Linked DNA regions of Homo sapiens: region 1 is linked to region 2. The links come from fine-mapping of genetic effects on gene expression. A gene starts in region 2. The other region holds a variant in brackets. All regions are shown on one strand. Distances are from middle to middle.

Region 1 (11,014 bases), 29 kb after region 2:
GTATACAGGTTTTTATGTGAAATGATTTTCATTTCTCTCTAATAAATGTCCAGCATTGCTGGATTATACAGTTAAGTGCATGTTTAGTTTTGTAAGAAACGGCCAAACTTACATTAAAAAAAAATAAATAATAAACAGAAACTACCAAACTATTTTTTTTTTTTTTTTGAGACGGACTTTCGCTCTTGTCGCCCAGGCTGGAGTGCAATAGCACAACCTCGGCTCACTGCAACCTCCATCTCCCGGGTTCAAGCGATTCTCCTGCTTCAGCCTCCCGAGTAGCTGGGATTATAGGCACCTGCCGCGACGACTGACTAATTTTTATATTTTTAGTAGAGACAGGGTTTCACCATGTTAGTGAGGCTGGTCTTGAACTCATGACCTCGGGCTCAGGTGATCCGCCTGTCTCGGCCTCCCAAAGTGCTGGGATTACAGGCGTGAGCCACTGCACCTGACCTACCAAACTGTTTTCTAGAGCGGCTGTGCCATTTTATATTCCCACCAGCAATGTGTGAGTGATCCAGTTTCTCTGCATCCTCACCAGCAATTGGTGTTGTCACTAGTATTAGCCATTCATCTGGACATATAGTGACATCTCATTGTGGTTTTAAAAATTTGGATTTCCCCAGTGGCTAATGATGTTGAACATCTTTTAATGGACGTATTTACCATTTATACATCCTCTTTAATGGAATATCTATCCATGTCTTTTATTTCCTAATCCGATTTTTTTTTACAGTTGGGGTTTAAGAGTTTTCTGTGTAGTCTAGATACTAGTCCCTTGACAGATACGTGATTGGAGAATATTTTCTCCTAGTCTCTTCATCATCTTTGCAGGATCTTTTGCAGAGTAAAACTTTTCATTTTGATGAGGTCCAATTGATCAGTTTTTCAGTTTATCAGTTTTTCGTTTTATGAAACTCAGGCTTTTAATGTCAACTTAGGGTTTTGATTCCTGCCTGTTGTCATGCGCAGTGCCGGGTGGTGAGAAAGAGAGCCATGGAACAAGATAGACACTGGAGTGTGAATGATTCTTCCAGTTTCTGTCCGGTTGGGTTCTGCAGTATGTCTTGATGAGCTGCCTATTTGTTGGAGTCATGGACACAGAGTTGCCCTTGTCTTGCAAAGGCTGTAAGGTGATGATGGTATGAAAGGAAAAATATTTCCAGAATAATCCATGGTACCTCCCAACACAAGGTTTGTTTGCACTTGAGAGCTTCTGTCTGGAATACTCTTCCTTGCTTCCATCTCTCCGCCCCTTTGTCCAGTCACTTCCAGTCCATCCTCCAATGTCTGCCCATGTGGCCCTTCCCAGGAGCACTTCCCTGGCCACTGCCTCTCACCCTGGCCCAGGTGTGCCTCTGCTTCCATTCTTACACACTCTCCTCGATGTCAGAGCATTTGTAAAGTAAATACGTGAAAATGAAAGTAAATATCAAGTAATAAGACGATTTGATTAAGGTCTGTTTCCCCTCTAGACCAGGCTTCCCCAACCTTGGCACTACTGACATTTCGCTGGATAATTCTTTGTTGCAGGCGGCTGTCTTGTGCATTGTGGGTGCTGCTCAGCAGCACCCCTGGCCTCCCCCCACCTAGCAGATGCCACGGCACCACCCTCCCTGGCCCCCACCTACCAGATGCCATGGCACCACCCTCCCTGGCCCCCACCTAGTGGTGAAAACCAAAAAAAATGTCTTCAGATAGTGCCAAATGCTCCCTGAGCGACAGAGTCACCCAGGTGGAGAACCATGCCTTGAGACTCTGAGAGGTGGGAGGGCAGGTACCAAGCCCCTTTTCATGCCTATTCTCTCTCTAGCATCCCAGCGCCAGGCCTGGCACTGTGGTGCTTCATTAATATTTGTAGGATAAATTAAGGGATAAACCAACTTAATAGGGGACACTTGTTTACACGGCAGCCTTGGAAATGCTACCCTGACTTCAAAGGAACAAAGTGGGTTTTGTTGGGCACTTGAGACCCAGGAGAATCTAGAGTCTTCTGTATTCAGGTGGATATGGGTTTCCTTATGCAGTACCCAAGACAGCCCCCACACTGAAGAGTTATGTCAGTAGTGCCGAGATAAAGAAAGCCTGCTCTAGGGCACAAGAGAACACACATTCCCACTCTCGCCCCAGGCGCCACACAATGATCCCTCTGACTTTCCCTCTGACTTTCCTTAGTTTAGAATCAGAGTCTCCGTCTGAAGTCCTAGACTGTTTCTCATCAATGCAATGACTGCATTGATACCAATTTACCTAGTGGTTCTCCCTGGAATTTTTCTTTTTTTCTTTTTCTTTTTTTTTGAGACAGTGTCTTGATTGTTGCTCAGGCTGGAGTGCAGTGGCATGATCTTGGCTCACTTCAACCTCTGCCTCCTCGGTTCTAGTGATTCCCCTGCCTCAGCCTCTTGAGCAGCTGGGATAACAGGTGTGCGCCACCATGCCTGGCTAATTTTTGTATTTTTAGTAGAGATGGGGTTTCACTGTGTTAGCCAGGATGGTCTCGATCTCCTGACCTCAAGTGACCTACCCACCTTGGCTTCCCAAAGGGCTAGGATTACAGGCATGAGCCACCTCGCATGGCCACTCCCTGGAATTTTCAAGCCAAGGCTTCTCTATTTGGGAGAGGAAGGAATGAGGCCAGTTACTTTTGTGTATCCTAGAAGGGAAAGGATGTGGTACTGGTAATTGAAGCTTTGGCCTGCCAGCCCACCTTATCCAATTTGTCAGCCCAGGTTCATCTACATCCTGTTGAGAAGTTTGGCAGCTGGAGGTGGACATGCACACACTACACTGAACCTCCTGCAACAAGCACTGCGGAAGGTGTGAACCCCAGGCTGAGTGACTGGGCAGCTGTTCCTCTGCAGGAATAGAGGAGCCCCAGCCTCCTGACACGGTGCACCTCCTGAAACCCACAAAGCAGCAGTAGGGAACCGTGGATGACATTACCAGTCCTCCCCACCTACCGCCTGGTCACTCCTTACAGGCTGCCTTTTTCTTCCTAAGCCAAAGCCAGCTCTATCATTCAGGTTCAGGAAACAGAACAGCCAGCCACTGAGAGAAAAACCTAAAACATTCATATATAATCTAAATTATTCTTACAACCACTGTTCTTACTCCCTGGGAGCTTTCTAAACCAATTTTATCCAGTTACCTGCTTAGCTAAGCAAAACGGAGCCCAAACCCCTGCTTCCCTCCTCTTCCTCGTGAAAAGGGAGCAGGACCCAGCTAGAGGGAAAGTGCAAGTGAACACTGCATTAGGTCTCCAAACCGCCCTGTGCAAGTCACCCCAGAAAGGCCACCTGAAGGAGGGCCTGTCCTGTCTGCTGGGAGGCCCTCTTTTTCTCACAAGGAGAGTCCATGCCTTATGGATAAACAGAGATGCCTTTTCTAGGCTGTGAGAGCACCACTTTGGCAGTGTTCATGGAGGATATGGGGTTTTATCAGGCAGGAACTCAGCAGCTCCCACGTTCCTATTTCAGTGAGCCGGGGAGAAAGGCAAGGAAACCCAACATATATTGAGTTACTACTATATACCAGGTACTATGCTAAACACAGAGAATAAAAAAATTAAGTCATAATCCCCACCATTAAATATCTAATATGTAGATTTGGCCACATACATAGGTCAAATCATGTTCACCAAAATAACACCACCATTTACTGAAAAAACTCAACATGAAATGGTCTGTGGGTTGTAATGGGGTGTAACATTCATCTTAGTGTATATAAAAAGATTCCACTTTATTATTTCTCAACTCTTTCTCCTTTTCCAGTAAATACCATTTTTATTAAAGTTTTATGATCCTTTGGTTTAGCCACTGTTGTGCTCCATAACCTTCTCTGCTCCCCTTTAGAACACATTTCAGCTATTCCAGAGTCTCAGTTCCTGATAAAAGGAAAAGGGATGCTTGTTATAAGTGGTGATTTCATTACAGAAATTTTGAAGGCTACATAACGGTATACAGAATAATAAATATTCATATTCCCACCATCAGAAATAACTATATAGATATTTTAATATCTGTCCTGTTAGTCTTTTTTTGTGCCTGTGTATAATTTTTTTTTTTTTTTTGGGATGGAGTCTCGCTCTGTCGCCCAGACTGGAGTGCAGTGGTGGGATCTCGGCTCACTGCAAGCTCTGCCTCCTGGGTTCACGCCATTCTCCTGCCTCAGCCTCCCAAGTAGCTGGCACTACAAGCACCCGCCACCACACCTGGCTAATTTGTGCCTGTGTATAATTTTTACATAGTTAATTATACCATACTTTTTTCCAGTTAAGATATATCCAGAATGTATTACCATGTCTTTAAGTTTTCTTCAGAGATAGGTTCTTAACAGCCAAAGGATATTGTGTTGGATGGATGTCATTAACTGTTCCTTATTGTTGGACATTTTAGGTTATGTTCTCCCAGAAGCAATCCCTGAGCCAAGCATAAAGTGCAAGTGATTCATTAGGAAGTGCTCCCAGTTGAAATAGTAAGGGAAGGGGAGAAGTGGGAATTAGAAAGGGAAGAAACCAAGCAAGAAATACCAGGTGAAGTCCCACACTCAGAGCTCATGGGGAGCTCTGGAGAGTCAGTTAACAAGCAGACCAGTAGTCAATGGCTGTTAGTCCTCAGGGAGGGAGTGGTGTTTGTGAACTCTCAACCACTTAGGGCCAACCAAGAAAGTGGCCTTCAACTCCCACTAGTAATTGACCGAGGTAACAGGTATAAACCATTAGCAACAAAGCAGATAAAAACTAGGAGATAAGTGCACAAAGCTGGTAAAAGGTCACCCACAGTGTCCCCTCCATTGGAGATTTAATTTGCAATTATAATTGCTATTGCAATTATTTATTGCAGAGAATATTGCAATACTTTTGCTACTGAAAATAATAGTAAACATTTTTGGACCTGAATCTTTTTTATTATCACATTAGGATTGATTGATAGAAGGGGTATTACTGTTCCAATAGATAGATACATTATTAAGATTATTTATGCGTACTAGGGATTGCCTTTAAAAAAGATTTTTAAAAAATCAATTTACATTTCTAACACTTGACACTCATTTTTTAATTGGCAAGAATCCAGAGAGTGTTAGTTTCTCGTCTCTGAATTGGAGGCCCATAGGCATATCAGGGTTATTCTAAAGGATCAGAGAAATCATGTTCATGGCCCAGTTTTGATTATAGATTGATAAATAATATCTCAAAATATGATTTCTTAAAATGTATCTAGGTACTGATAAAAAGAATTTGGATTTTATTGACATGTTTAAGAATTCATGGTTGTATTTTATGTATTTTTACCAATACTAAAAACATGGTCATGAACTATGTGTAATATTTTTTATGTCTAAAAAAGGTACTTCCATGTCTCTTGCTGAAGAGAGAAATTAAAAAGGTACTTCCTTGTTTTTAAAGATTGAGAACCATTGGTCAATGTCACTATAATGTCTTGGGTCACCTCTTGGTTGCTGGATTAGGAAATCAGCCATTTGGACCATTACGTCTTAAAGACATATCAAAAAGAAAAGTCTATAGGACTTGATACATAGGTAAACCAGATTTAATGATCTGAGTCAGCAGACCGAAAAACATATCTCAGCACTATTAAAGGTTTTCTGGGACATACTCACCCCTCCCCCTCCATTCCCACAGTAATGGACCCCTCAGTTCTCTTACAGAGACGGCAAAACGCACCAGCATTGTCTTAATTTATTTCTGAGTCTTAAATAGTCTAAGGAAGTTATAAAGATACAGACAAGGCTTTATCAAGGTAGCAGTGTTTGACTGTTTTCTTAGCTTGATCCTTGAGACTTTCTAAATGGTTGCTGAAATACAAATCAGAGTATTTCAGGTCTTGAGCATTGAAGAGGACCAGAAGAAGAGAGCCAGCATTTACTGAACACTTGCTCTGAGCCAGGTATTAGGCTGGTTACTATGTCTTTCAGTTTGCACCTATTGAATTTCCATGGCCACCCTTGAGATATGATTTCTAATATGGCAGAGGACAAAGCTAAGACGGATGAAGATTGTGACTTGCCTTGGATCTCTTGGTTAATGGGTAGTAGGATTGGAATTTGAACTTTAGGTGAATTTTCCCGGAAACTTAGAGGAAAATAGAATGAATATCCTGTAATCTTGAATTTTAAAAGACAGACTGCTAACAAAGCTCTAATCCCCTCCTTCCCCCTAGCCTTTTCCCATCAACCCAAAGAGATTTCAGAATGGATAATATATGGATAAAAGGCACTTGATGTCAGAGTGTACTTTATAATAAAATATGTGTCTTTTCATTGAAGGGACCATTTGGATGTTGCTGCCATACTTTTCAGCGGCTGAAAAGGTATTTCCTAAACATTTTTAGGTTCCTTTTTGGCCAAATTAATTAGTGTCATAGAATGAGCATACACTTTGAAGGCAGACAAAAATTTAAGAAAAAATTCAGATGTCTCTAAGTCTTTCTCCACTAACCTGAAAAACACATTTTAAAACTACCAAGCTGCTGTCCCCTTGATAAGTTGGCATTTC[C/T]TGTTTGTTCTCTAAATTTTAAAGATGCTGAGTCATTTTGCTAGTACTTAGTACACTTCCCAAGGATAACCAAGATGTACTTTAGTTTGCTTGTTCACCTGATTTGGTATCATAAGAAAATGTGGTAGATGTTTGGAAAATGAATACAGGTCTTGGTGGACATTATTTCAGTAATGCTTATACAGATTTGAGAGACAGAGACCATATGTGAGGCTTAACCCCGATTACTTGTACATTAACAATTACTGTCATCTTACAGAGACAGCCTTAATCTCCATGGCTCACCTCCTGAAGAGTTTCTAGAATGCCTCTTGCCAAACACCGTTGAGTGTTGGCAAAGTACTGATGAGAAATGTTTGGTCTGAATGCTGGACAGCACGATTTTACTTAAGGCCATTCAGAAGTCTCAGTTTGGCAGCCACAAACCTTGCCTGTACATTTGTTTTGTTGTTGTTTTTTTTTTGAGACAGAGTCTCACTCTGTCACCTGGGCTGGAGTGCAGTAGCACAATCTCGGCTCACTGCAGCCTCCACCTCCTGGGTTCAAGCGATTCCCACACCTCAGCCTCTGGAGTAGCTGGGATTATAGGCATGTGCTACCACACCCAGCTGATTTTTGTATTTCTAATAGAGACAGGGTTAAGCCATGTTGGCCAGGCTGGTTTCGAACTCCTGGCCTCAAGCACTCTGCCCACCTCGGCCTTCCAAAGTGCTGGGGTTACGGGCTTGAGCCACCGTGCCCGGCCTGTACATTTATTTCTTTGGGAAGCCCTGGCAGGAAAAGCTGTTGAGAGATGTCATGATTCGGACAAAACATACCTGCTGTTTTTCTCTACCTGCTGTAGCCCCTGTAGATTAATAAGGGGCCTTAGGTTCCAAGAACCAGGATCCTAGCAACACAGAGACTAGAAGGATGGCGAGACTTTCCCAGTGCCTGAGAAGGTGTCAGCTTTCACTGAGGGGCGGGGAGGGGAGAGGCTGAGATAAATCCGGGGACTCACCTTGCCGTGCTGTGTGTCGGTTGTTTGTCGCTGGCATCTGCACTGTTAGGATTCCATTTTTAGGCTGGGCTTGATTCAGGAGGCTCGCTGCTGTCACACGAGGGCAATCCACTTTGATTCTCCCAGCCCAGCTTTTAATGCCCAGCAGACTCCTTTATCTTGTCATCATCCAGCGAGCCTCCCTCGGTCTAGATGGCCATGGGAGGCAAACCCGTTCAGTGTCAGCAGCTGGTCTTTCATAATTTGATTTTCCAGTGATGTTTGAGCCATCGGTGTGAAACAGTCACCAGTCTGGCTCTCATAATTTGAATTTCAGTATTTGGATATATTCCAGAGAGTGGTGTAAATGGACTTTGGATTTTCCTTATCACTGTTGCTCAGCATTTCCACAGTTTAAAACATTTAGGGTTTATTAGATAAGGGTGCTCAGTGCTACTGTTTCTCACTAAAAGGAACCAGAGCTCCCTGGAGAAGTGGCTGATTCCATCTGGAACAGAAGATGTATAAAATGAGCCTAAACATCTAGTCAAACCGGAAAGCAAGGAGGCTAACAAGACTGTAGGGTTGTATCAGAAGGTTTAAGAACGAGTGTGAAGAGGCTCATTTTGAGCACCAATAAGAATAAATTTGCAGTGGATCGAGACCCTTAAAGTATGTTGAAAAACACGAGTTTATAGTGATACAGAAAATAGAACCCTCTGGTCAATCAACCTATTTTGAATTATTTTGAAAACTGTTGGATATGGGAAATGAATGAAGAATTTGTCCTGCCCTTGTAACACAAAATAAACCTCAGGGCAACCAAGTAGTTGATTATGGAAAACTTCTTTTTATATAAATATTCTAATTAATAAGTGAGGGAGGAAAGTTAGAATTATAACAGCACCCACATTTGGTAACTCTTAATAAAACAGTGCACTTAGGCGGTCATCATAAGTAGCTTGCTAACACCACAAAAAGAGACAGTCAGCTACCGTCTACTGATTTCACCACCCTCTACGGCACCTCTACAAAATATTCTTACAAAAAGAGAAAATTGACTTGAATCTGATCAGTCCCTACAGCTGGGGTCAGCAGGCTTTTCACGTAGAGGGCCACATAATAACTGTTTTTGGCTTTGCAGGCTATACCGTCTCTCTTGCAGCCGGGCACCTCTGCTCAGCTCCCTATCATAGCACAGATGCAGCCATAAACAAAGAAAAAAGCGTGGCCAGATCTGGCCCATGGGCCGTAGCTTGCAGACCCCTGCTCTAGCTCTAACAGTTTACAGGAAGGACAGAAGACAGAGAAACTTGTTGAACAGCATGACATTAATGCAGTTAGCAAAATCTACCCTGGGGAAACTCTACAGGGCAAATAACCTGTTTTTTTCAACAGAAAAAATTCCAAGGTTAAAAATGAAGCAACTAGTGGAAGATGAAACAAACAAACAACCAAAAAAACAAAGGCAAGAGGTGTAACCAGTTGCAATGTATGGAGCTTACTTAGATCGTAATTCAAATATACTATAAAAAATGCGAACATGGACTAGATATTTGACATGTTAAGGAGTTATTTTGCGGTGTGATAATGATGTCATGGATATCTATTTTAAATCCTTAGGCTGAGTCTATATGTTGAAATTATTTTGAATGATATTATATGATGTCTGCAGTTAACTCCAAAATCATCTTTGATTTGAGTAGAAATAAACCAAGCCGTGAGTTAATAATTGTTTTTTCTGGATGTTGAGTATGGGGGGGAGTATTAAATATTTGCATATGTTTGATATTTCCCATGATATAATGTTTTTAAAAATATATGTATGTTTTATAAAACATGATCACTTTAAACCTTTTATAGAGAATGAGAGAGCATGGAGAACTTTTCCTTCATTAGACGCTTCTGTGTCCTCCCAAAATAGGTGTGCACCATCCAGCTATGAATGGACCCAGAAGAGTCTTTCCAGTGGTTTTTCCCACCAAGCTGTCTGCCTACAACTTACTTATTATGCTACATAGAGCAGACTAGTGTCATATTATTTATCATTTGTTCATGCACTATATGTAAACTTTTATTTCATAAAAAGAATTTATTAGGTAGAAAATGAGCTTCATGTTTTGTGTCTGGCTATCCTAGTTGCCACTGTTCAGTTGTTCAGCACTGGTTCCAGGCTAAGGGGTCTCGTCACAGGTGCTCACACAGCCTGGAGAGGTGATGGCAGTGGCGGCCATGGCAGGGTGTGAGGCAGCAGGGAGCAGCGGGAGCGAGGCACGCTGGAAAGTGGGTGCCCAGCCCATAAGGGGTGGCGTCTGTGCAGAACATTTGCCATGGGGGTGAGGGTCCAGTAGTACTAGAACGTCCACTCTTTTTCATTTTTCCTGAGAATAACCCTAATCTAGACTTGTGACATTTTTTGACTTTTAGTTGCTAAAAATATTTTTAGAATACTCTGTATTGCACATCAAACACTTGCTGGATTAGTCCCACGGGTCAACCTCTGATTTTGTGTCTACCAATGAATGGTAAGGCCCTAAACTGACCCTGTGGGCACCAGGAGTCTACAGTCCCTGCTTTCCGTGAGCTTCCAGTCTACTTGCGAGGAAAGAAAACATACTTGGAAAACAACTAAAATGAGACAGGCAAATAGGAAATGCTATAGGAATTCAAAGAAGAGAATAAAGAACCTCATCTTTAACAATCAGGAAAAACATCACACACACCGTGGAAGGAGTTGGGTAGAAGTGTCACTGTTGCTAGGTGGAGGCTAAGGGAGAGAAGCAGAGGCTCGGGCTTGGGTAAGCAAGCTCTTTCAACAGAAACTATGATTCTTGAAAAAGAGAAGAGTTGGTAGATTTTTGGAGACTAGTACCCCTCCCCACCAGTGGATAATTTTTCTGAACGATCAAGTGAAAACAGGTAGCAAACTGTTGAAAGTATAGCACTGCAATTCAGCAGAGAGTTTGAGGATTTGAGCTGCATATTTGAGCATCACCTGTGTAGAAGAGATGGTTGACGCCATTGGGTCTATAGAGAGTGGGTTCCTCTAATGTCTGCTATTGGCAAGCAGTCTATTTATAAATGTTAGGGTTATATTTTGAGTCTGGCATTTGCAAAACTACCATCCCATTATTTACTACGTTAAATCATGGTTAAAACTCAAAGCAGTACCCAGCTATTTCATAAACATTCCCCGTATTGGAAAGGAGAAAGGTTTGAAGTAAGAGAAACTAGAAGAACATAGGGAAGGAGATACCTGGCATTTGGAAGGATATGCCTGTGGCGATGGCTCTACTGATGGGCTTATGATCTTCCCTCCAATGATGGCCTAGAGACCTATTTTTACTGTTGTGAAACAATATTCAAGCAAATGATAATCTTCCATCTTGTTGCTATGCAGTACATTTGGGCAGCACTCTTATTTCTCTCTGATTTGAAAGTTTAAAGTGTAATTTCTCTTAAAAAGGAAAATAAACAGGAGGTTTCTATGTACTTCCCATTATGGCATCTGCTTGTTC
Region 2 (11,014 bases):
GTCCACTTCTTGAATCTGAGATAGCCCTGTGACCTGCTCTGAATTGTGACCGCAGAAGTGGTATTGTGCCAGATCCAAGGCTAATCCTTCATAGAACTTGAGGCTTCTGTTTTCCCCACCTTGAAGTCCTCAGCCATCCTATAAAGCCTGACTACTGCTGGAAAAACCATGTAGGAAAGCCTTAGAGCTTGAAATATAACAAGGTGAAAAAGGCCCGTGAAGATGAAAAACTAGAGAGAGAAGACTGAGGGTTCCAGCCCTTCTCTCTGAGAGTCCACATGCATGAGTGAGGCCACCTGGAGTCCTACGGCTGCAAGAGTGAGGTCAGACAACAGGAGGTGGAGCAGAGTGAACCATCCCAGCCAAACCATGCCCATCCAACCCATACCATCACAAACAAATAAAATGGTTGTTATTTTAAGCCATTAAAATTTGGGATAGTAGGGCCGGGCGTGGTGGCTCATGCCTATAATCCCAGCACTTTGGGAGGCTGAGGCAGGCAGATCACCTGAGGTCAGGAGTTTGAGACCAGCCTGGCCAACATGGCAAAACCATGTCTCTACTAAAAATATGAAAATTAGCTGGGGTGGTGTTAGGCGCCTGTAATCCCAGCTAAGCAGGAGGCTGAGGCAGGAGAATCGCTTGAACCTGGGATGTGGAGGTTGCAGTGAGCTGAGATCACACCATTGCACTCCAGCCTGGGTAACAAGAGAGAAACTCTGTCTCAAAAAAAAAAAAAAAAAAGATAGTTTGTAATGCAACACTAGATAACTGATACAGGTGGAGTAAGAAAAGGGTATTCAGGTCAGAGAGAATGGTTTAAACAATGGCATGATGACATAAAAAATACAATTTTGATATAGGTGAGTAATTCTGATTGGGAAAGCCTTTAAGAACATAGAGAAAATGAAAAGATAATGCAAGAAAGGTGGGTTGGGGTTAAATTGTAGAGAGCTTTCATTGTAGTAAATTTTTATTAAGCATTTATGTGTCAAATACTCAGTTCTTTTCATGAATTAACTACACAATCCTCACATAGCCCTATGAGTGGGTTATTCTATTATTATCCCCCATTTTACAAAATGGACACTGAGGCTCACAGGTTAAATTACTTGAAAAAAATTGCGTAGTGATGAGACTGGGATTTGAACACAGGCAATCTAACTTCAGAGCCTGTGTTCATAACCTCTACAGAAGACTGACTAAACCAAGGAATCGGAACCTTCGTGATGAACAGTGGAATTATTTTAAGCTGGGGAGTGGCATGACCGAAAAAGCACTTTAGAAAGACTAAGCTGGCAGTTACAGATAGAATCTGGAAGCTGAGAGAATAGTTAGGGTGCTATTGGAGTGGTAAGAGTTTGAACTGACTTGAAAAAATGGAAGAGGGGTGACTCAGAGGGACTTGGGGGAAAAAATTTAAAAACTACTAACAGCACCTAAGGAATTGCTGGAAATGGGATGAATAAAAAAAAGAAAAGGGGCTGGGTGCGGTGGCTCACACCTGTAATCCCAGCACTTTGGGAGGCTGAGGCAGGTGGATTGCCTGAGGTCAGGAGTTCGAGACCAGTCTGGCCAACATGGTGAAACCCCCTCTCTACTAAAAATACAAAAAAGTAGCCAGGCATGGTGGTGCACGCCTGTAATCCCAGCTACTTGGGAGGCTGAGGAAGGAGAATCACTTGAATCCGGGAGGCAGAGGTTGCAGTGAGCTGAGATCATGCCACTGCACTCCAGCCTGGGTGACAAGAGTGACACTCTGTCTCAAAAAGAAAGGAAGGAAGGAAGGAGGGAAAAAGAAAGAAAGAGAAAGAAAGAAAGAAAGAAAGAAAGAAAGAAAGAAAGAAAGAAAGAAAGAAAGAAAGAAAGAAAAGAAAGAGGGAAAGAAAGAAAAAGGAAGGAAGGAAGGAAGGAAGGAAGGAAAGAAGAAAGAAAGAAAGAATTCATTCCCATCTTTGTGCTTTGGTGACTGAGATGGAAGTCATGTCTGTAAAACACATGGAACACAGGAGGAAGAACTGGTTGGGGGATGAAGATAATAAGTGGGTTTGACTTGTTAGGTGGGAGGTGATGGTGGGATATTAAGTGGAGGTGTCTGCCAGGCACTTGGAGATAGATGAGTGGTACCTTGGGATGGTGGCCAAGGCCATCTGTAGATATGGGCTTAGAATTCATCCAGAACTAAGCAAAGTTACAGACATTTAAGGTATGTCAGTTAGGCATCCTAGGTTGCTGGCAACAGAAACTGAATCTGGCTAACAAGTAGAAAAGTCTCACAGAAACAGAGTTCACTGTGGACCTCTGCTCAGACGGGACAGGGTCTATGGCAGCTCTGAGGTCCGGGTAGGAAGAACTCACAAATTCATCATTCATCAAGCTGAGATAAGTCAGCTGCAATTACTTTTTCATTCTTTTCAAGATTCAAAGAACTGGGAGGGAATCCAGTGAGCTTGGTCATATGCCCATCCCTTGGCTAGTGAAAGTAAGGATACCTTGATTTCCTTCCCAACAAAATGCTGCATAAAATAGAAGAGGTGTTTCCACTATCAAAAGGTGAGGAGGGGAACAAGTGTTGGTGGCCACAGATAAATCAATGTTCGTTCCACTGGGAGAGAGTGTGGAGAAAAGAGGAGGGAGCTGAGGACAGTCAACTGCATGGTGCCCACCTGTTGGAAGATTTGATGGAAAAAGGATAAAGGCAAGTTAAGGCATAGGAAGAGAGAAAATAGGCAAAGGAGTTTCCAAAAAATGGGCACACATATGAGAGTGAAATCCTGCCAAGGACTCAAAGGTGATAAAGAATGTTGAAAAACTACTGGGGTTGCCATTGGAAGCTATTGGTAACATTTGGGAGAGAAGGAGGGCCCGAGGAAGCGAGGAAGAAAAGGAGGGGAGCCCGATGATGGGGTAAGAAGATTGACCGAAGAGACCCATGGAAAAAGGGAGGCAGCATCTATTGTTTGGTGGTAAAAGGAAGGAGAGCAGCTGGGCTGTTGTTTGAAGGGGTCAGTATCACAACGACTCTCAGAACCTGGCTGTTACATCCTATTTGGTCACATATAAGTAGAAAATAATACCCAGCCCAGCACTTAGTAATGTCTTTTCTCTGAAGCTCTTGGTGAAAACTAGTGACGACAATAGCAAAGTGCAAACTGATGCTCTGGTTTAATCTGTTTCAGAAGTTACAGAAAGAGGAAATTGAATTTATTTGAAAGCCAACTTTAAAGGGAAATAAAAAGATAAATGTCTTTTCTAAGCTAAAAAAAAAAACCCCAAAGCAATGCAACAGTTTCAGAAACTAATTGTATAAGTGTACTGTTATTACCAGTCTCTTTTCCCCTGGTTGAAACAATCTTCCATAACAACATTTGCAACTATAATATTGCGTAACAAGCACTGTTACGGTGTAATGTCTTTTAAATAGGGGTTAGATAGGAGAGAAGTGAGTATCCATTATCTTATTATCATAACATCCGTCAGTCTTCCAGACAAAACACCATCATCCCACTGGGAGCTAAGGACGGTTTTTACTTAAACACAAGGTCATACTGTTTGGGTGCATGGGAGAGCAGTGGAGGTGGGGTGGGGGATTTTCATTTATTCCAAGGCACTCAACGCTGGACTTCTTCCAAGAGAGGAAACAAGACTAAATAGATCATTTGTTTTATTCTGTTTGGGCAGTTCTTGCATTTCTCCCAACTGTGGCTTATGGACACAAAGCCAAACTCAGAGCCTAGCTGGAGCTGGCTAAACTCCAGGTCAAAGGAATAAACAATTTGAAGCTCTATTTGCGGATTAAGGCAAGCCACACAATTGCAGGACAAAATGAAATTTCACTGTGAATGTGAAGTCACAAAGAAACAGCAGGTAGAAGTGTTAAATGATTTGGATTTCTCAAACAAAACCGAGGTAGAGGTAGGAAGGAAATGTGGATTGGAAGTACACATCTATGAGAAATGCATCTCAAAAAGGGTCAAATATTGGAGAATACTGGAGGAGGAACCTGCTGCTTGTGGGGACCAACTGAGGTAGGAACACAACATCTTTGGAACAGCCCCTCACGGTGGGTGTCAAAGAGCCTGGCCATTTGAGTGTCATGGAAAGTGTAGCTTGGGTCATTACTTCTGTCTCCTCTTGCTGGCATCAGGAAGGCTGGCCAACACCAGCCATGCACACTCAGTAACAAGTATAGTTGGTATTCCCAGCATATCCCACTGGCAGAATGGGTCTTTGTCTTCAATCACTTTCCTTTGGGAGACCTCATCGTTGGCCTCATCGCATGTCTAGCGAGAGAGAAGGGAACATTAGTGTCTAGGCTTACTTTAGCATATTAGTTAGCACTGCATCCACTGTGATTTCAGAATTGACAAGTCACGTACAGTATTGCTCAAAATGTTCCTTCGACACTACAGGAAAGAATGGGGAAGTAAATGTCAGTCATTAAAGTGTAACCCAAAGAGGTAAGTCCTAAGGACTTCTAACGTCTTTCATAGATGAAGAATTTGGACCCTATTTACACTCTAATTGGGAAAGCAAAAAAGGCTTGTTGTTGTTTTTTCTTGAAAAACATTGGCTCCTTCAAGACAAGAGACTGAAACTCTTCAAAATAGTAATTTTGTGCATTTCTCTCACTGGTTTGAGTAACTTTAGTAAAAATTTAAAGTTACACATAATTAACCAAAGTGTGTGAGATAGGAATCAACGTATCAATGTTAATATCCTGATTGTGATATTATACAATGGTTTTGCAAAATGTTACCATGAGGAAGACTTGGCAAAGTGTAAAAGAGACCTCTCTGAATCATTTCTTAACAACTGCATGCCAGCCTACAATTACCTCTATTACAAATTTTAATTTAGAAATGTGATTGAGACAGAAATGGATGCAGGGATTCTGGCACATTTTCATAATAATCTGGCTTCACCCACATTTCCCAGTTATTTCTCCAGTAGTTTCTTGAATGACTCCCTTCCATCTGGAAGAGGATACTCCCAGCTTTTCAAACACACTGAACGAGCTCATTCACACCTGTGGGCTTTCCCCCCTCCTTTGAATTGTTCCCAGCTCCAGCCCACACCGCCCTGACTGGACCAAGCACAATACTGTCACTGAAACAGTTCTTAGCATGTCTAAAAGTCACTTGGCTAGTAGTTCATCCACTCGTCAACAAAATTTATTGAGTAACTGCTATATGTGTGGTATGGCTCTAGGCACTAGGGATAGAGTGAGTTGGAAACAATATTGAAATTAGTTTCTCTTCCCTGGTCTCTGGGAGTATATTCCAATGAGAGAGAGTAGAAGAAAACTAGCAAGAAACAAGGTAAAAAAAAAATCAATTCATGATGAGGGTTATGAAGGAAGTCATAGGTTAGAGGGGATAAAGTGACTTTATCTCAAGTGGTCAGGGGAGGCTTCCTAGGGGAGAGGACATTTGAGTTGTGACCTCAAGTGTAAGGATGCAGACAACATAGAAGATCCTGGGACAAAAAGCATTTCAGGCACAGAGAATAAGAAAGTTACCCTGTAACTGAATATAAATATTTGGTATGACTGTAAAATAATTAAACAGATGCTCATTTTTGTAGACTGTTTGCTCCTTATTTTAGGACCAAGCCTCCCATAGCCTGTTTCCCTCTATGAGAGACTGAGAACACCCTTAGGCTGGTCCAGATTTTACACTTTTCAGAGCAACCCCTTCCCCAACACACACGTGCACACTCTGGCACGGCCACCTGCATGCCAAGGGGTGACTGCAGGCTGATCTTCCAAGTGGCTCTCATCAGTAGCTGTACCCTTAATCCAGGGCTGTGTATAGGGAGATTTACATTTCTTCCTCGCTGTTGGGGCCGTCTGCCTGCTAGCGACGATTCTACACTAACGGCTACATAAATTACTGTCATTAAAGTTGGGTCCTTGGGTCCCCAGAAACCTAACTAGAGGCAAAGGAGGAACCAACTAAGAGAGGTCCAGGTAACAGAGCCCGGAGCGGGACGGTCATTTGTTGCAGGCCCCTGGGGTATGTGCCTGTCTATCGCGCACCGGGTCCCAGCAGCAGTGGTTACCGGCTGAGAAGGGCTGGGTTCCCAGGACGCTGCGGGTACCTCATGCTATCACCATAGCCGGGAATCCAGTTTTCTGGTTCCCCTCGTCTGTATTTGCCTAAGGCGACTTGCCGCCGTTCCTCTGTCCCCTAGGCAGGGAGAAGTCAGCTCTAGGACACCCTGCAAAACGCCTCGAGGGGTTATCTGCCCCTTCCCGGCCGCGTCCTGGCACCGTTTCCCCATCACCCGGAGGACTGAGCGCTGTCTCAGGGCGCCCTCTGTCTCTTCCAGGGGGCAGCCAAGACGACATGCCCTGCGTCTCAGGGACGCGGTACGAGCCCTGGTATTCCCCCCGCCACCTCACACACCCCCATCCGGGAGACCCACGTGCAGCTGGGCCCGGGCTGGCGCCGCACCTCGGGGTCTGCGCGTCTCCCCGGCGCGTTCCGGGCGCAGCCCCACGACACGGACCCCTGGCGGGGCGGCATCCGAGAAGTCGCAGGCGGAGAGGGGGCGTCCTGGAGGCCGGGCGCGGGGACGCTGCGGCCCGCGGCCACACAAAGGAGGCGGCGGGAAGGCGGGGCAAGGCGGGCCGGGGGCGGGGGCGGCAGGAAGGGGCGGGGGCCCGCGCGGCGCCGCCGATAAAGCCCCCGCCGCCGCGGCAGCCAGCTTGCGCTGTGGGGCTGCCCGGGCTGCGCGGCGTCTGCAGGCGCCACCGCTGCCTCTTTCCGGCTGTGACCCTCCTCGCCGCCGCCGCTTGGCTGCGTCCTCCGACTCCCCGCGCCGCCGAGACCAGGCTCCCGCTCCGGTTGCGGCCGCACCGCCCTCCGCGGCCGCCCCCTGGGGATCCAGCGAGCGCGGTGAGTACAGGCTGCGCGGTGAGTCCCGGGCGCGGCCGGCGCTGCCCTCGGCGGGGGACGCTCCCCGGGGCTCCGCGCGCCACCGGCCCTGCTCCCTGACCTTGCGCCCGGCCGGGAAGCTGCGGGGCCAGCGGGACCCTGGGGCGCCGACGTCGGGGAGCAGAGAACTTTCTCAGCCTCCCGCGGGCCGCCTTGGCCGGGGCTGGGTGCTCGCCGGGCATCCCGGTCCCGCCCGCCGGGAGCCCCGAGCGGGACCCGGGCAGGGCAAGGCGGGGCCGCCCCGGGGTGGCGTCCAGTGATACCCGCAGCTGGGAGCACCGGGGCCGGCGTGGCTCCTGCCCGGCCATCCGAGCCGGCCCTGACCCTGAACCTGAGGTTTCCAGCTGCTCGCCGGCAACCCCTACCCCGGACTTAGGCTGCGCGCCGCCGGATGGGGAGAGACTGGCGCACTCTTACTTGTTACCTCTGCCTGGGCAGAGGGAGGTGACGCGCGGTGTGGGGAAAGCCTTTAACTTGGCCTCTGGCAGCCGATTTAACCCGAGCGAGCAGGTCTTTGCTATTTTCATCATCTGTAGAAACGGGAGTTGCGAGGCGGATGAGTGACTGCAGGTAAAATGAAAGTACGGTACTCAGAAATTCTGGAAGGAATTAGGCATTTAATGTGTCCACAAACTGAGCGGGGAAGGAAGGCTTCTATTACATAAGACAGCACTCCACCTTCAGGTATTATGGAAGATGCTGTTGAAGGTTTTAGTGTTTTAATGAACGAAACACATTCTTTGTGTGTGTGTCTCTGGAGAAATCTCGAATGCTGCTGTCTTGCTTTGGCTACTTTGCAGGGGACGTTCTTATATTTAGCATCAGCATAAAAAGGTGTTCGAAGGTGTGACTTCCTCTTTCAAGCCAAGAAGCCGTTTATTTGTCTGAATTGTTGTGGAACAATATATGTGATAATTGTGTACTTTGAAGATTTTATATCAAAACTTGAGCACAGATAACTGGAAGAATTGTCAACATTGCTAATTTGTATATCCTAAACCACACTTCGAAAATTGAAGACAGTTTCAACACTATCTGAAGGTCTAAATCAGTACTTATTTGCTATTTGCAGTATTTCAATAGAAAAATTTTTGGCTATGCAAATGAAGGTACTAACCTGAGTAATCTAAGGTTTCTTTTAACCCCCAAATTTTGATTCTTTGTTAAAATAATGTTTGAAAATATCGTACCATGCAGGGCAATTACTGAAGGTCATGAAAATGTCATCGTATTTTATTCTAAAAACAAAAATGAATCTATGCAGAAAATTTCCGTGTCCCATGAACTTCATATTAGTTTAATTTTAAAAGTACTGTCTCCAAAAAAAGCTAATTTTCACTTCCACACAAGGGTGATTAAATACCAGTCAGAGATTGTTTGAGGTGGTAGAGTTGGAAATGAGGTGGTGACCTGGCCACGTCCCTGGGTGCATCTCAGCCTTGCTGTCCTCTTCCAGCCAGTTCTTTTCCCATCGCATGGGGACTTTGGCTCTTGGGCTATTTCTCCTCCTCTAGACCTAAAGTCCATGTGGGGGACGCTCTAGATGCGCACTTCCTTGACTGTCTCAAATCCAGTGTCTTCCATGTACTCCAGCTACCAAGTCCTCTAAGTACCTCCAAGTCTTGCCCTCTCTTGAGATGCTCAACTTCTGAAAACTCTTAGTGCCTCCAACCCGCAAGCTCCTTCCTTCCGGGTTGCAAACCGGACTCCCACTGTAATCTTCAATGCAAGCGATCTCCAATGCTTTTCCTCTTGCGGGTTTGGCAGGTGACTTTGTAGCCCATTCTACCAGGAGAATAGAGGTCATAAGTATCTCCTCACGTCCTCCCCCATCTCCCCTGTACAGACTTTTCTGTGTTTACCCAGTCATCCAATAAATCTTCTTAAGCATCTACTGTGTCTGGGTACTTTGTTGGATACTCATAGGTGGTAAATAGAGCAGATCCTTGCTCGCTTGAAACTGTCATTCTTGTGGGAGAAAACCAACTAAAAGCAAACATAATATGTTGTAAAATGTATGATAAATGAATAAGGTAGAATTATAAAGAAAAATCAAGTTAGACTGAGAACTTAGAGAAATATAGAGAGATGGCCTCCTTGGGGCAGTGACTAATGTCTCCAGCTGTGTCCTGAATCCCAACTCCCAGTGCCTCTCTCTCCTTGTGAGTGTTACTCCCTTTTCTTACTTTTATCTTCAGTCTCTCCCTGTGAGCTTTTTTCTTTTTTAGTAGTATTTTAAGAATGCCTTAACCTCCCTTGTCCCTGCATCCTCAGCTCACCTGTAGTGACAACCACGTCTCTCCAGGCTTCTTAAACTGGTCTGCCCTTCCTGTTCAGCTCTTTGCAAGCTGGCCAGAGTCTCCTCAAAGTTCAAGGCCTGTGACTTCCTGAACAAGCAATCTTTTTTTTTTTTTTTTAATTTTTATTAATATGCTTTAAGCTCTGGGGTACATGTGCAGAACGTGCAGGTTTGTTACATAGGTATACACGTGCCATGGTGGTTTGCTGCACCCATCAACCCATCACATTAGGTATTTCTCCTAATGCTATCCCTCCCCTACCTCACTCCCCGCCCCCCACCACAGGCCCCAGTGTGTGATGTTTCCCTCCCTGTGTCCCTGTGTTCTCATCTGAACAAGCAATCTTATGGATACCCACTAGGTTTCTCCGTGGCATTTGATGAGGTTCTTCTATTCCTTTCTGATGGTTTTTTTTTTTTTTTCCATCCCTGGTTGCCACCTTCTGGTTTTCCTTATTCCTCCCTGGCATCTCTGCTACCTCTTGGGGTTACCCAGGGTTCGCTGTCATCCCTTTTGTGCTCTGTGTATTTGGGTGAACCATGTTCCCACAGCTTCGACTCTCACCAATATGAAGCGAGTCCCAGATTGGCATGTTAAGCTAGCTTGAGCATGCTCCTGTGTTCCAATCAGTTACCTGCAGTCTGGTGCGCTTACCCGTGCCCTTTAGGCCAAAAAAACACCCCAAAATAAATCCAAAATTGATTTTAGTTTTCACCACCCACCCCATATCCGCTTCATTGTTAGCGAAGATTTGTCCGTTTTTTTTTGGCAGTGGTTCCACCGTTCATGGAGATGTTGGAGCAGGGGTCTCACGGTGATGCCAGGCTCCCGCACTGCCCACATGCAGGCTGTCACCAGATCCTGTTGCTTCTTCATGCTGTGAAATTCCACAAAGGTCCGCTCTAGTCACGCTGGCCTTGCCTTGCTTTAGAGCCCAAAAGTGGCAAAATGGTGGCCGGTGTGCCACTTCTAGCAGTAGGCAGCAGTGTTGTTGGCCTGAACAAAGTATATACAACTTGAGTTAATATTTAGAAATCTGGAGATGCCACTTGGATGTATAGCTTCTCCTAAAAGCCAGAAGACCTGGATGAGGCAGTGCGTGGTGGCTCATACCTGTAATCCCAGCACTGTGGGAGGCTGAACCAGGCGGATCACTTGAGGTCAGGAGTTCAAGACCAGCCTGATCAACATGGTAAAACCGCGTCTCTACTAAAAATACAAAAATTAGCTGCGCCTATAATCCCAGCTACTCGGGAGGCTGAGGCAGGAGAATCGCTTGAACCCGGGAGGCAGAGGTTGCAGTGAGCTGAGATGGCGCCACTGTTCTCGAGCCTGGGTGAAAGAGTGAGACTCTGTCTCAAAACAAAAACAAAAACAAAACAAAAAAAACCTGGAATAGGAAGCTTACATTCCCATGTGGCAAACCTCAGCTGCTGCTGGGTTTCCAGTGCCTGAATACACTGGAGGTAGGTTGCTTTCTGGTTCCCCCAGACCTGTGACCCTTGCTTATAGTGGCGTTCTGGCTCCCATGGGCTTCAGAGCTAGAGACCCTAGGCTGAGACGATCATCGACAGCCTGGGAATGCCTAGTGCTTACTGCACAGTGTCGTGCACCTCATGTTGCATCCCTTCTAACTCTCTTCCATGTTATTGCTGGTGTGACTTTCCTCCTGCTGCCCCAAATCCAAGTCTTCTTGGGTCCCTCCTAATAAAATTCAATGGCTCCCTCTTGATCTGGGCTTAAATCCCTGACTCTAAAGGAGTGGCCATGTCA

What was found. PIP is the estimated chance that this variant, and not a neighbour inherited with it, causes the effect.
Region 1: its variant is fine-mapped to the expression of SERPINE2 in whole blood (INTERVAL, PIP above 0.99). The same link has a PIP of 0.9 or more in blood mononuclear cells.

What each region holds. Positions count from the first base shown.
Region 1 is chr2:224,005,661-224,016,674 of GRCh38, reverse strand. All of the region lies in intron 1 of SERPINE2 (serpin family E member 2), which reads left to right. It overlaps LOC124907990 (a long non-coding RNA gene), which reads right to left and starts at 7,798. Exons shown (of 2, transcript XR_007088102.1): 1 at 7,518-7,798. RefSeq lists enhancers at 1,088-1,587, 6,678-7,253, 6,178-7,377. The variant C/T (reference allele first, on the strand shown) is at 6,518.
Region 2 is chr2:224,034,987-224,046,000 of GRCh38, reverse strand. SERPINE2 (serpin family E member 2) reads left to right here and starts at 6,715. Exons shown (of 9, transcript NM_001136528.2): 1 at 6,715-6,902. It overlaps LOC124907991 (a long non-coding RNA gene), which reads right to left and starts at 6,599. Exons shown (of 2, transcript XR_007088103.1): 1 at 6,459-6,599; 2 at 3,509-4,283. RefSeq lists a silencer at 6,255-6,549.